Linked DNA regions of Homo sapiens: region 1 is linked to region 2. Evidence: fine-mapped QTL for protein levels in blood plasma. Region 2 holds a variant in brackets. A gene starts in the other region. All regions are shown on their forward strands.

Region 1 (4,998 bases), not on the chromosome of region 2:
ATCCTCCCACCTCAGCCTCCCGAGTAGCCGGGACTACAGGCACATGCCACCACACCCCGCCAGTTTTTGTATTTTTTTGTAGAGTCAGGGTTCTGCCATGTTGCCCAGGCTGGTCTTGAACTCCTGGGTTCAAGTGATCTGCCAGCCTCGGCCTCCCAAAGTGCTAAGATTACAAGTGTGAGACACCACCCCCAGCCAGCACATTGTATTAATCCAAGCAGGAGAACGCAGACTTCAAAGGCTTATGGGCAGCAGAGAGAAGTAGATGAAGCAAAGAGATGCAATCAGCGGGACTAGTGGGAAATGAGGGAAAGGAAGGTGTCAGGATGGGGCTTTTTCTAGCTGAGTGGAGTTCAGTTCATTCCCAGAGAAGCTTGAGAGGTATCCAACTATAGATGCAAGGTAGCTGGCTGTTGGTCCCTTGTCTTTAGGACAGTTTGACTTTTGTAATACAGGCGACCTCACAGAGCTATTGTGAGAATTCAGAGCTGGGCACAGAATAGATGCTCTATAAACGGTAGTTCTATTCCCCATTTGCCCCGTCCTCCCAGCATGCCAGGGATACAGGGGCGGATAGAGACAGGTTCAGTTCCCTTTGGTCTCTTGCATTCCCCCTTCCCTCAGCACAATTCCTGGGCTCATAGCGGATGCTCAATAAGTATTTGTAGAATGAACCAAAGAAATCAGACCCTTGGTGACCCAGGGCTACATGTACTCGGCGGAAAACTGGGGTTAAACCGGACCCTTGGTTGGTTGAAAAATTAAAATAATTTTTAAAAAGTGGGCGTGAAATAATCCAGAAGTTGGAGGGCCTGGACAAAGGCTGGGGAGGGGACTCCTCCCACCAGGCGGCCTCAGGGTCGGCTTAGCAAGAAAGGAGGCGCTGGGGAGACCTCTGGGGTCCCAGCTGCCAAGGTACTCGCCGCTCCAAGGAGATGCGGACGCCGGATACCAGCTCTGCCCAAGATTGCTGGGTCCCGCCGCGGCCTTTAAAGGCCCACCACGTGGCTGCGCGGCCAGCCCTGGTCCGGAGGCGGTGCCCGGGTGGCGCCTGCGCACTGCCTAGCAGAGGGGCTGGGGTTCCGAGAAAAAGCGTCTGGAGAGGAAGGGGAGGCTGCTTGGGGTGGGACGCCGTGGGAGGAGTCGGCTCCTTATGCAAATCACAGCGGAGCGCGCACGGTCCGGAGGCGGGGCTTGCGATGCAAAGACAGGTCCGTCTGGCGAACAGCGAGGGGGCGGGCCGCAACCCTCTGCCTCTTTCCGCGAGCGCTGACGTCGCCGACGTGTTGTTTAAAAGCGGCCGCGCAGGCGCAGTGAGCCCAAATGCGAACTTAGGCTGTTACACAACTGCTGGGGTCTGTTCTCGCCGCCCGCCCGGCAGTCAGGCAGCGTCGCCGCCGTGGTAGCAGCCTCAGCCGTTTCTGGAGTCTCGGGCCCACAGTCACCGCCGCTTACCTGCGCCTCCTCGAGCCTCCGGAGTCCCCGTCCGCCCGCACAGGCCGGTTCGCCGTCTGCGTCTCCCCCACGCCGCCTCGCCTGCCGCCGCGCTCGTCCCTCCGGGCCGACATGAGTGGGGACCACCTCCACAACGATTCCCAGGTACGGCCCGGCCTGACCCTGGCGGCCCCGGACCCCGGCCTGGCCGTCCCGCGACCCCCGGCGCAGGCCCCGACCCCAGCCCCGGCCCGGCAGCTTTGACAGGCCGGAGCCCCCGGTGAGGGGCCGCCTGCCGGAGTAGATCGGCTCGCTAGGCCGCGAGCGAGGGCCGCGAAGTTACAGTTCGAGGCAGGGATGGCTGCCCTCTGTGGCCACCCCCGGGTCCCCGTCCTCCCCGGGGGCGCAGGGTGAGCCAGACCCCGGCCGCGCGCGCTCGCCGCCGGAGGGGTTAAAGTGGCTGTTGTTTGATATTCTCTCCTTTTCTTTTTCCAGATCGAAGCGGATTTCCGATTGAATGGTGAGTGTGCCCCCTGCGCCGACTCCGGGGCCCCCCAGCCGCCGGCCGCCTCCCCCGCGCCCTGCCGGTGCCGGGCAGAGGACAGACATGGCGTCCCAGAGACTAAGTCCCGGCTCCTCGCTCACCGGCCCCATTGTTCCCATCGGGCCGCCTCTTGACCCCCTTTCCGGGGACCCCAGCTCCTCCAGATCCCGGCCCTCCCAAGAGGGGACAACGGAGACCCCGTGTCGTCCGCCACCGGGCCTCGGGCGGTCTTTCCGGGCCGGGATTCCTCCCGGGAAAGTCGCCTTGTCGACGGTCGGGACTTAGTCTCTGCGCCATTTTCTTTTTCTCTCTCCTCTCCTTTCTGTGCCTGTGTCTCTTTCTCTCCCTCCCTCGGCTCTTTCCTTGAGCTGCCCAGAATGAGCTTTCTGCAGAGCAAAGCCGTATAAATCACATACTTCACCAGAGAGGGAAGGCTGGGGGACTGAATTATTATTTTTTAAACTTTATTTTGGGGGTTATTCCCTTTATGCTTCATGTTTGTTTCCTTTTCTGCTTCCAGAATGAAAGATTTCCTTAAGCAACTGTTAATTTTTTTTTTGATAGGCTGTTTATGATAGGAATTATGGCTCTAAAACTAAAGCCACGCTTTGTGGAGTTCTTTATATTTCCAGGTTGTTTTTCCCAAGTTACGTTCTTTGCAAAGGTAGCAGTACCTCCCTAAAGAAAGTTTGCAAGTTCTCTGTGGGTCACCCAATGTAAATGTTGGATTTTTAAAAAATTATGTTAGTCACTGGAACTTTTCATTGTGGTCGAGGTTCCCAATGCAGTGTTTTTCTGGAAACGCAGTTTAGTGTACTTGTTGGAAGGAAAGATTGTTGAGCATCTCTTGTGGACCTGGTGTGTTGGCCTTTTCGTTTGGGTTGTAAGGAGGAAAAAAAGATTTTATTTATTGAAGCAAAGAGTGTCCAGTACCCACCCCTGCTTCCTGTTCATTCTTTTTCACGAGCCACTGTTTTTCAGGAATCAAGAACTGGCTTTTTTTTTTTTTCCCAATTCTTTATGTTTTTGAACCCTTTTCAGCCAAATCAAGGCATTTATTCTTACTGTATTTCCACTTCAGTTACCCAGGGAAGAGTCCTCCAATAAAAAGCTCATCCTTGCAGGCTTTCGAACAACCCTGTTGAAGGAGAAGTTACCTTCTGTAGTGTGCTGGGAATTCCCACTGATTTTGATGGTACATAATCCTGCTCAATTGAGTTTGGGTTCCGGGAACCTCTCCAATGGGAGAAGTTGATGAGTAGGTTTTCTAATGTTGTAATCAGCAGTCCATCATGTTAGCCTGCTCTACTGAGAGCAACCTTATGTTCAGAGTTTGAAGTGGGGCATCCAGCAGGAGATGGTACTCAGCCAGGAGAGAATCTGGTTTAAAGTATGGCATTTCTTGAGCACCAGATATGTGCCAACCACTGTGCTTGGTGCTAGAGCTGATCCTGTAACCATAACACTCCCTTGCTCTCAATTCAGTCTATTGGGGGAGACATAATTAGTTAATTATAAGGTAACTACTGGGGCATATGTGTACCCAAAATGCTTTGAAGTATAGGGGAGTTAATTTTGTCTGAGGGTGGGGAAATTTCTCAGAGGAGGTGACTTCTGAGCTGGGGGTTGTGGAAGACTGGGCGCAGAGAATTGTCAGGGGTTGGAGTGTTTCTTAAGTACGTTTAACCAACCTATCACGATTTTAAAAGAGGGAGGAGGTGAGGCCTGCAGTTTAGAAAGCCACAGTATAGACATGTTTCTTTGGGATACAGGAGCAAAGAAAGGATGTGCAGGTGAGGATGTAAGAAGTCCTTTTGACCTTGCTAGAGGAAGGTGGGATCTTTAATATGGAATGTGTTCTTTTGGCTGTCAGGCTGGGCTGAGTAGGTAATGTAAGTAATGAAACAAAGTTTAGCCCTTTCTTGTGAGAAAGTTAACTTACATGGTTCTCACCTAAGTCACGTGAATGATTGTGAGCTGGCTAGGTTATTGATCTTTACTGACATTTTTATAGAGGCTGAAGTAATCTGCGTATGTTGACTTTTAGAATGTGTTGGCTCACATTTAATAGCAATAATAGCTAATATTTATTGAATACTTACTGCCAGGCATGAATCTCAGCTCTTTCCATGGATCATCTAATTAAATGTAATCCTTGGAAGGACCCTTGTGAGTTAGGTCCTGTTATTTCTGTTTTGTAGATGAGGAAACTGAGGCTTCAGTGTATTTACTAGCTTGCCCAAGGGCTGTGAGTTGGCCACTCTAAATCCCATGAGCTGAGCCACTATGCTAGAGTGATACTATATGATACTAGCATGAAAAAATAAAAAGCCACAAATCTCTATTTTCTTACAGAGCTGAAAAAGGAGAGAAGGAAGGATTTGATAATTTGTCATTTGCTTTTTATCTAAACATGCTTTTTGAAGAGAATCTGCCACCATAAAGTTCTGACATTGGTGTAATTATTCTTTGTGAATATTGTCTGGAAGATGTGGTGTTGGTAACTATGCTTGCTATCTCAAGTAATACATTGTTAACCAGTGATTGATTTATGTAACTATGAAAAAAACTTTAAAAAAAGTAGAAATCAATGTTTAATTATGCCCAGACATGTCATTATTGAACTTTGTATTAAGAGATTGTTTAAGCGTGATTTTAAGAGGGCCTAACCCATCTTACAGATTAACTGTACAAGTTCATATATTAAAATCAAACGTCTCTCATTTTGCCTGCCCTCATCCCCTAAGATATAAAAGATTCCCCCCCGTCCCCCCACTTTGGAGCTCATTCTTCGCAATATTTAAAATTGTAGCTCTTTGCATGTAATTTAGAACATTCTGACCCATACTCAACTGCTGGGAGACTCTGTTATTTATATTTAAAATGTTGACAGTGAGTTAGGAATTTGGAGCAGAAACCATATCTAAGTCTAAGTGAAAAGACTTCCTAAGTATTGGTAGAACTAACTGTAGTGGGGCTGAGTCATTATTACAGTACTGTACAGGCTGCGTAGCTATCTG
Region 2 (9,312 bases):
GGAGTGTATATGTACCGGTGTGTTTGGGTGTGTAAGGAGGTAGGGGTGGGAGGAGCATGGAACATAGTTCTGGGCAGTTGCACAAGTAGAAGGAAATCCTAGTTCTACTTTTTGATGATTTAACATTTATTGAATGACACACATGTAGGGCAAAATTTGAGAGAGTTTGTACTCTAATGCAATGGCTGGATGAACTCTCAATCTTTGCCCTACATATGGTGGCTTAGTTTTTCCAAGAGCAAATCTACAGTCTCTACTCTGCC[T/C]ATGGGAATTAGATTGTCCTCTGATCAGTCGCAAAATAAACTTCTTTATCACTTTGTAAAAGAACTGTGTCTCCATTGCTATTTCTACCACCCACCCCTTGCCCCTGATTTGCAGCTGACCTTTATGAATGTATTTTCCGAACTCAGCCAGGGCTGTAGTATTGGACTTCTCAGAGCTAAAAGTCACTGTTGGAATCTGGATGGCACCTGTCAGAGTCAAATAGAGATGAAAGATTGAAAATGAATTAGTCATTGTTTTTTTCTACAGTCCTCTGTGCACAAAAAGTTCTTTTGCCTTCATTATCATATTGCAGAGGGCAAAACACTAATGTGAGGTAGGCGCTATTGTTTCCTCTAATTCGAAGATGAGGGAAAATGCTTGGAGAGGTTAGGTGAGCTGTCTGAGCAACAGGCAGACTATAGATTTAAACCTATGTCTTCTGGGTTTGTTTAGGCTGATATGGTTCTTAAAGGCAAATACAGTCTAAGATTGGAGGGAAGTGGATTTTTGGATCCTGGTCTTGAAGGGAAGCTACTATAAATTGCTTCCTAAGGCCTCACTACCTCTGAAATCACCAATTGCTTTGATGAATCCAAGCTTCATCATTCTCAAGGCACCCACTGTCCTGGGTCCCTACATCAATGAGGCTTGTGTGTTTTTGTATGTAAAGGCTTATTCCTTATGCAGAGTCTCACTAGTCTGTCAACCAAGACCAGCTTTTTGGGCATATAATGCCTGGGAAGGGGTGGATTTAGAAGCCTCCAAACAAACTCCTCAGTCCTAAAATAATCTCACCCTCCTTACTCAGTTGTCTCAGTTCCTGAACCTTCACTGGGCTCATCCCTTTGAGTCTTTAAGACTTTACAGTTTTAAAGAGTTCCATGATCAAAGACAAAACCACTGGGAGGGAAAGCATGAATCATGAGAATATTGAATTAGACTGCTCTCCAAGAACACAGTGCAAACAAATTCACCTGAGGCAGGAAGGGTCTCTGAAAGACAAACTTCATCAGTTTTGCTAAGGATCAACCCTACAATAGCATAGCCCACCAGATAGATGGGGAAGCCGAGGTTCAGAAAGATTCAAGTGCCTACTCAAGGGCAGACCCAAGGATCTGATCTCAGGTGTTCTGTCCCCTGCTCAGAGTTCCAAGCTGTGTTGCTATGAGGTCCCTATTCTAGCTTATGTAGCTTTTGTTCTCTTCTGTGCAGACTGTGAGTGGCTGTCTAATGCCTTTTAGAGAATTATTTATGCTTTGGGAAAGCCCTGCTCTGCCTCCCAGGCTTGTCACTCTAGCATATGAACAATCTATATCCAACTATTGGGGTTAGCTTTTGGTCCCTGCATCTGCTTCTATATGTTTATGCAGGCAGTCTCTCTTAATCCATTACTTAATGAAAGGGAAAAGACTGGAGCTAAGCTGAATGGTAAAGAAGGATTTCATCCCATAGGATCTAGCACTCAACAGAAACTTTCCTGTTTCCTGGAAAATGCAGATTCAGAACAGGGATGAATTTTTGGTCTGGATTAGAGATCTAGAGGAGACATGTTCTTCAATTATGATTGAGAATTAGGAACATCCCACACCCCGGGAACACTCCACTCCCTTTCTTTAGAGCCATCTGATCCCAGCGAGTCCGACAGGCACTAGATGCTGTCACCCACTGCCCACTCTTTGCTGTGGGGCCCTGGGGAAGATCATTTAGCTGACCTAAGCCTCAATTTCTCTCCTTTGTAGATAAGACTAATATCATTTGTCTTATTTTACGACACCGCAGTAATTTATCAGGCATGCAAACTTTCAAAGGTTAAAATTGATGTACAAATGAAAGCTGGTGTAATACTCGAGGCAAGCAGGGGAAAGAATGGACGGTGGTCACGCCAAGAGGGGTGAAGTTGGAGCTTCCAGGTTAGGCAGGGCACACCAGAGTTCCAGGAGCCAGGTATGGGGGAAGTGTGGCGTCCCCAGACAGGGGCACGATGTGCTGGGAAGGGTGTTGGGGCCGGGCTGGGGTGCGTGTCGGGGCTCCAGCTGCAGTAGCAGATGCTTTGCGGCGGAAGCGGGGAGTCACGGGTTGACCTGGGGAGGGAGGGACCCACATATGAGCATAGGTGGGTGAAGGGGACCCGGGTTCACCTTTCAGCGCCTCTTTCATCGCGACGCGTTCCTCTTTGCTGAACTGAGAAGGGATTCGCGACGCCCTTTGATGCTCCCCGCTCCTCGGGCCCATCGATCTGGAGACGGTAGGGAAAACTAGGAGCAGCATAGCCACCAGGGCCAGCACGCAAACGCACCGCTGAGCCATGCTTCTCTCGAGCTCCTGCTGTCAGGCTACCGGGGTAGTTCTGACCTAAACGCCCAGACTAGCGTTTCTTGGCCCTAGCTCTGCTCTTATTCCGGCAAACAGCCTTAGCCACACCCCATATCCAGATCTGACCAATCATCGCTTCGCTAGGACAGCGGAACAACCAATTGACAGAATGACCCCGCCCAGGATCCTTAAGGCCTTTCGAGGGTTGTGGGTTTTCGTGCTGAGGCCAGCAGTTCCTGCAGAGCAGAGGTGAGGTCGGGCTCCAGGCTAGAGTCATGTCTGGTCCGCACTTGATCTCTCACCCATAAATCCTTTCCTGTATGACAACAAATCAAATAAAGGAGGAAAAGCAAAATAAAATGCACGAAGCTTATCAGACCATACTCTGCTGCTCGTTTTTTCCGAAGCTTAGAACCTGACTACAATTCCCTAGATCCTGGGGCGGGGGAGCTCTCTAGGTTCCCAGCTTGATTTCATCTGAAATTGGAACAAATTGCTCTGTTTATAGATACTGCTTTGAAATACCAGCTCAGAGGGTTGGCTCCTGTTTAGAAATTTCATTGAAAGTGCTTTTAATATTAATGTTAACACTACATTTTTGCAACTCTAGACAAGTACAGTAAGACTGAAGGATTTTTAGAAAGATTACTATAAAATATTTAAGAGAATTTTGATGTATAAATAATTTTGATGTATTCCACAAGTGAAATTTTATGGTTATTCAGAGTAGAGGATCATTCTGGAAAAAAGAAAACCTGTCTTATGTCACAGAAATATAAAATCAGATTTCCTGAAGCCAGAATAAATCGTTCCTTTCAGATTTCTTGATGCAATTTTATCTGGCATCACTCTCAAATTTTAGAATTCTCAAGAAAAATTCAGTAAGTGCTATACAACCAGTAAGGCCATATTGCTACCTGTGACCAAAGCTACAGGTTCACAGTCCTGGTGTTTGCATTTCATTTAAGATTTGCTTAAAAAAAAAAATTCAGCCATGTAGTTACTTTTCTTTTCTTTTCTTTTTTTTTCTCTCTCGGTGCCCAGGCTGGAGTGCAATGGGGCGATCTCGGCTCACCGCAACCTCCGCCTCCCAGTTTCAAGCAATTCTCTGGCCTCAGCCTCCCAAGTAGCTGGGATTACAGGCATGCACCACCATGCCTGGCTAATTTTGTATTTTTAGTAGAGATGGGGTTTCTCCATGTTGGTCAGGCTGGTCTCGAACTCCCGACCTCAGGTGATCTGCCCACCTCGACCTCCCAAAGTGCTGGGATTACAGGCGTGAGCCACCACACCCTGCCTAGTTACTTTTTAATAGCAACTTTAAAACAGTATCATGAAATACTTCACATATTATAAAGATATAAAAAATAACATAATGAACATTTCTGGATTCACCACCTAGTTTAAGATTTAGAATGTTAAAAATAGAGTTGAAATTTAAACATGAACATTGACATAATTTTTAGTAAAAAGTAGCTTAATCTCTACCTAACTTTAAAATTTTTTTAAAAGAGACTTTTTATTTTATATATTTATTATTTTTTAAAATTATTATTATTTTTGTAGAGATAGGGTTTCACTATTTTGTCCAGGCTGCTCTTGAACTCCTGGACTCAAGCAACCCTCCCATTTAAGCCTCCCAAAGTGCTAGTATTACAGGAATGAGCCACCACACCCAGCACAATTTTTATGATTGTAAAATTCATGTATATTTATGCCCTTGTGAAATATTTGGAACATTAAGTATAAAGAAAAAAATCACATGCTATCCCAATATCCAGAGACGTTCACTCATCATATTTTGATGTTATCCAATCTTTTTTCTCTGCACACAAATACCCACAAATGAAGGATGTCCCTGTTTTAAAATGAAACAGATGCATATACTGCATCCAAAGTTCTATGTTCTGCTTTTTTTCCTTTAACATTATGTCATAAACACTTCCTGGTCCTTAAATATTCTTTAAATTATCTTATCACATAATATTTGATAATTAAGAGTACGTACAACGTGTATGTAAAGTAAATAATAACATGAACACCCGTGATTTGGAGTTTAGACCTAACTGGTCAAACTGCATTTTTTCTCCTGTCACTGCTCCAATTCTTGCAATCTGTCTAATTCCCACACTGTTCCCAGATCTAGCCAATCATGGAAAATTATCAGTAGCATTGAAGGTGCATGTGTTCTATTGCCTTTATTTTCCAACTCCCTGCCCAAGGTAATTGTATGACCGTGTTGTGTGTTTTAAATAGTTCTACAACATATGTATGATATACATATATGTATAGTGTGTGTGTGTGTGTATATCTTATAAAAATGACATCATGTTGTGTGTAGTCTTCTGCAATTTGCTCTTTTTACCCAACACTGTTTGTGGGATTTATGCATGCTGTTATATCTTGCTACAGTCTATTGACATTATTGTACATGTCTCCTGGGCCACAGGTAAAAGAGATTCTCTGGAATATATATCTAGGAGTGAAAATGCTGTGTTGTACTGTATGTTCTATTTTACAAGAGAAGGCTGAATTATTTTCCAAAGTGATTGGAACAATTTATACTAATCAGCAAGGTAGTGCATAGTATATAAGTTCCTGTTGCTTCACTTTCTCACTAGCTCTTGGCATTGGCATTTCCAATATCTTCATTTTGCCCATTTAGTGCCTGGAAAATATCTCCTTGTGGTATTATTTTGTACTCTCTAGTTTGTTAAAGAGTTTAAGCTTTATTTATTTATTTATTTATTTATTTATCATAGGGTCTTGCTCTGTCACCCAGGCTGGAGTTCAGTGGCACAAGTATAGCTCACTGCAGCCTCCAACTCCTGAGCTCAAAGAATCCTCTTGCCGCAGCCTTCTGAGTAGTTAAGATTGCAAGTGAACACCAACACCTTCAGCTAATTTTTAGAAGTTTTTTTATAGAGACAGTGTCTCTCTATGTTGCCCAGACTGGTCTTGAACTCCTGGCCTCAAATGATCCTCCTGCCTTGGTCTCCCAAAGTGCTGAGATGACAGGCTGAACCACCATGCCTGGCCTAAACATCTTTAAATATGCTTATTTGCCATTCATGTTTCTCTGGTAAAATGACTGTTCATATCTATTGCCCATTTTTGTTTAGAGCTGTCTTCTTATTGAATTTTAAGGGTTTCTATATATTGTGGAGTCTAAAATTTTGTCAGTTTTATTTAAATTATAAATATTTCTCTTCATTTGTGTCTTGTGTTTTTATTTTTTTAATGGCCTTTTGATGGGTTGAAGTCTTAATAATATAGTTGAATTTATTATTATATTCTTTTATAATTAGTGATGTTTTCTTGCTTAAAAAATCTTAACAAATCTAGTCCAAGGTCATAAATATATATATATATATGAATTTTTAGTAAAAAATAGCTTAATCTCTACCAAACTTTAAAAATTTTTAAAAAGATACTTTTTATTTTATGTATTTATTATTTTTAAATTTATTATTATTTTTGTAGAGATAGGGTCTCACTATTTTGCCCAGGCTGCTCTTGAACTCCTGGACTCAAGCTTTTTCCCTTATCTTCGAATTAGAGAAAACAATAGTGCCTACCTCATATTAGTGTTTTGCCCTCTGCAATACGATAATGAAGGCAAAAGAACTTTTTGTGCACAGAGGACTGTAGAAAAAAAAATGATTAATTCATGTTCAGTCTTTCATCTCTGACCATTTGACTCTGACAGGTGCCATCCAGATTCCAACAGTGACTTTTAGCTCTGAGAAGTCCAATACTACAGCCCTGGCTGAGTTCGGAAAATACATTCATAAAGGTCAGCTGCAAATCAGGGGCAAGGGGTGGGTGGTAGAAATAGCAATGGAGACACAGTTCTTTTACAAAGTGATAAAGAAGTTTATTTTGTGACTGATCAGAGGACAATCTAATTCCCATGGGCAGAGTAGAGACTGTAGATTTGCTCTTGGAAAAACTAAGCCACCATATGTAGGGCAACGATTGAGAGTTCATCCAGCCATTGCATTAGAGTATAAACTCTCTCAAACTTTGCCCTACATATGTGTCATTCAATAAATGTTAAATCATCAAAAAGTAGAACTAGGATTTCCTTCTACTTGTGCAACTGCCCAGAACTATGTTCCATGCTCCTCCCACCCCTACCTCCTTACACACCCAAACACACCGGTACATATACACTCCACGTACTCAGGCCTACCCCAGATTCATTACTAACACATTTCTAGGCCTCTAGGCAGTCAACAACTTTGAGCTATAACATCAGTCTTTTTCCCTCATCCCTACCACCCATTGAGTACAGAGCTGAGGAAGGATGGGTCAGAGGAAAAAAGGATTCTTGGAACTCCTCCCTCCCCTTATGAAAATCTCATGGAGAGTGATGAGATTACCTTCCTAAATCTAATTAAAAACAACCCCTCCAAAGTTGTCAGAGGTGGGAGAAGGTGGCCTAGGAGCAGCAAGCAGCCCCCTCTCTAACACCCTGGGACAAATGGCTCTGGGATTAGCCATGCATGGTGGCGAGCACCTGTAGTCCTAGTTACAGGAGGCTGAGGTGGGAGGGTTGCTGGATTCCAGGAATTCAAGGCTGCAGTAAGCTATGAATGTGCCACTGTGCTCAAGCGTAAGTGAGAGAGCAAGACCTTGTCTCTGGAAAAAAAAAAAAAAAAAAAAAAAAGAAAGGAAGGAAGGAAAAAACAAAAATGAGTGGCTCAGGGATTAATGCCCAGTAGCCAAGCTGAGGCCAGGCTGAAAAGGCTGGAAGTCTTTACTAAATAGGAGACAAACATAGGAAAGGAAATGTATAGTGACAGTAAACTAGATAAGCTAAGTGACAAGATAAAACCATATTCTTCTTCAGTTTTTGGGTATCCACAGAATTATATGTGAATTCTTCCAAAAAGCCCAGAGACAGATAAAATTTATTTCTCCTATGTAGCTAAGGTCACTTGAATAATTGACCCTGGGAACATCTACACCTGCATGCAGAAGCACCTTGTGCTAAACAGAATAATCTGTGTTCACATAACACATACACTAGATGTGTGGCTTTTTAAAAAGAAAAATGTCTCTGAACTTTTTAATATAATATTTAAATATAATTTGGTTAATGAGGCCTACTAATTTAATATAATAATTTAATATAATTTGGTTAATGAGGCCTCCTATGGTCAAAATTTAATGCATCCCTCATCTGCATAGCCCTTTAACACATACTTGTGATAGCATGTTATAGGTCTGACCAAGCCTGAGCTTGAGATATTGACCATCTTAGTAGTGAGTCTTTTTTTTTTGAGATTGAGTTTTGCTCTTTTCACCCACGCTGGAGTGCAATGAACTTAAACTATACCCTAGAACAAATGGACTTAACTGATATTTACAGACTATTCTACCTAACAATTCAGAATATACATTTTTTTCATCAGCACATGGAACATTCTCCAAGATAGACCATTTGATCGGCCACAAAACAAATCTCAATAAATTTAAGAAAATCAAAATTATATCAAGTACTCTCTCAGACTACAGTGGAATAAAATTGGAAATTAACTCTAAAAGGAACCCTCAAGACTATACAAATATGTGGAAATTAAATAATCTGCTCCTGAATGATCTTTGGATCAACAATGAAATAAAAATGGAAATTAAAAAATTCTTTGAACTGAATGATAATAGTGACAGAACATGTTAAAACCTCTGGGATACAGCAAAAGTGGTGCTAAGACGACATTTCATAGCATTAAATGCCTACATCAAAAAGTCTGAAAGAACACAAATAGAGAACCTAAGATCACACCTCAAGGAACTAGAGAAACAAGAACAAACCAAACCCAAAACCAGCAGAAGAAAATAAATAACAAAAGTCAGAGCAGAACTAAATGAAATTGAAACAAACAAACAAAAAACAATACAAAAGATAAATGAAGCAAAAAGATGGTTCTTTGAAAAGATAAAAAAAATTGATAGACCATTAGTGAGATTAACCAAGAACAGAGAGAAGATCCAAATAAGCTCAATTAGAAATGAAACAGAAGATATTACAACTGATACCATAGAAATACAAAAGATCATTTAAGGCTACTATGAACACCTTTATGCACACAAACTAGAAAATCTAGAGGAGATGGATAAATTCCTGGGAATATGCAACCCTACTAGATTAAATCAGGAAGAAATAGAAACTCTGAACAAACCAATAACAAGTAGTGAGATTGAAATGGTAATTAAAAAATTGCCAACAAAATAAAGCCCAGGATCAGATGGTTACACAGCTGAATTCTATCAGGCATTCAAAGAAGAATTGGTACCAATCTTACTGAAATTATTCCATAAGATAGAGAAAGAGGGAATCCTCCCTAAGTCATTCTATGAAGCCAGTATCACCCTAATAGCAAAACAAGAAAAGGACATAATAAAACAAGAAAACTACAGACCAATATCCCTGGTGAACATAGATGTGAAAATCCTCAACAAAATACTAGCTAACTGAACCCAACAGCATATCAAAAAGATAATACACCATGATCAAGTGGATTTCATGCCAGGAATGCATGGATGGTTTAACATACACAAGTCAATAAATGTAATACATCACATAAGCAGAATTAAGAACAGAAATTATATGATCATCTCAATGGATGCAGAAAAAGCATTTGCCAAAATCCAGCATCACTTTATGATGAAAGCCACCAGCAAAGTCAGCATAGAAGGGACATAACTCAAAGTAATAAAAGCCATCTA

Which allele goes with the higher level. Positions count from the first base shown, and alleles are read on the strand shown. Strength reflects both the effect of a copy and how common the allele is.
For the plasma level of the protein whose gene starts at base 1,321 in region 1, T is the high allele of the variant in region 2 and C is the other (strong association).

Evidence for each region. PIP is the chance, under the fine-mapping model, that this variant and not a neighbour inherited with it causes the effect. Protein levels are from antibody-based Olink assays in UK Biobank. Linkage for the fine-mapping came from a reference panel and not from the study's own genotypes, which makes the PIPs less certain.
Region 1: it holds the start of TOP1, and the variant in region 2 is fine-mapped to the plasma level of the TOP1 protein (UK Biobank, PIP above 0.99).

What each region holds. Positions count from the first base shown.
Region 1 is chr20:41,027,502-41,032,499 of GRCh38, forward strand. TOP1 (DNA topoisomerase I) reads left to right here and starts at 1,321. Exons shown (of 21, transcript NM_003286.4): 1 at 1,321-1,599; 2 at 1,930-1,954. The coding sequence starts at 1,567. RefSeq lists silencers at 1,020-1,371, 1,592-1,661.
Region 2 is chr1:205,847,502-205,856,813 of GRCh38, forward strand. It overlaps PM20D1 (peptidase M20 domain containing 1), which reads right to left and starts at 2,631. Exons shown (of 13, transcript NM_152491.5): 1 at 2,403-2,631; 2 at 384-470. The coding sequence starts at 2,571. LOC107985250 (a long non-coding RNA gene) reads left to right here and starts at 7,254. Exons shown (of 2, transcript XR_001738417.2): 1 at 7,254-9,312. RefSeq lists an enhancer at 2,560-2,854. The variant T/C (reference allele first, on the strand shown) is at 264.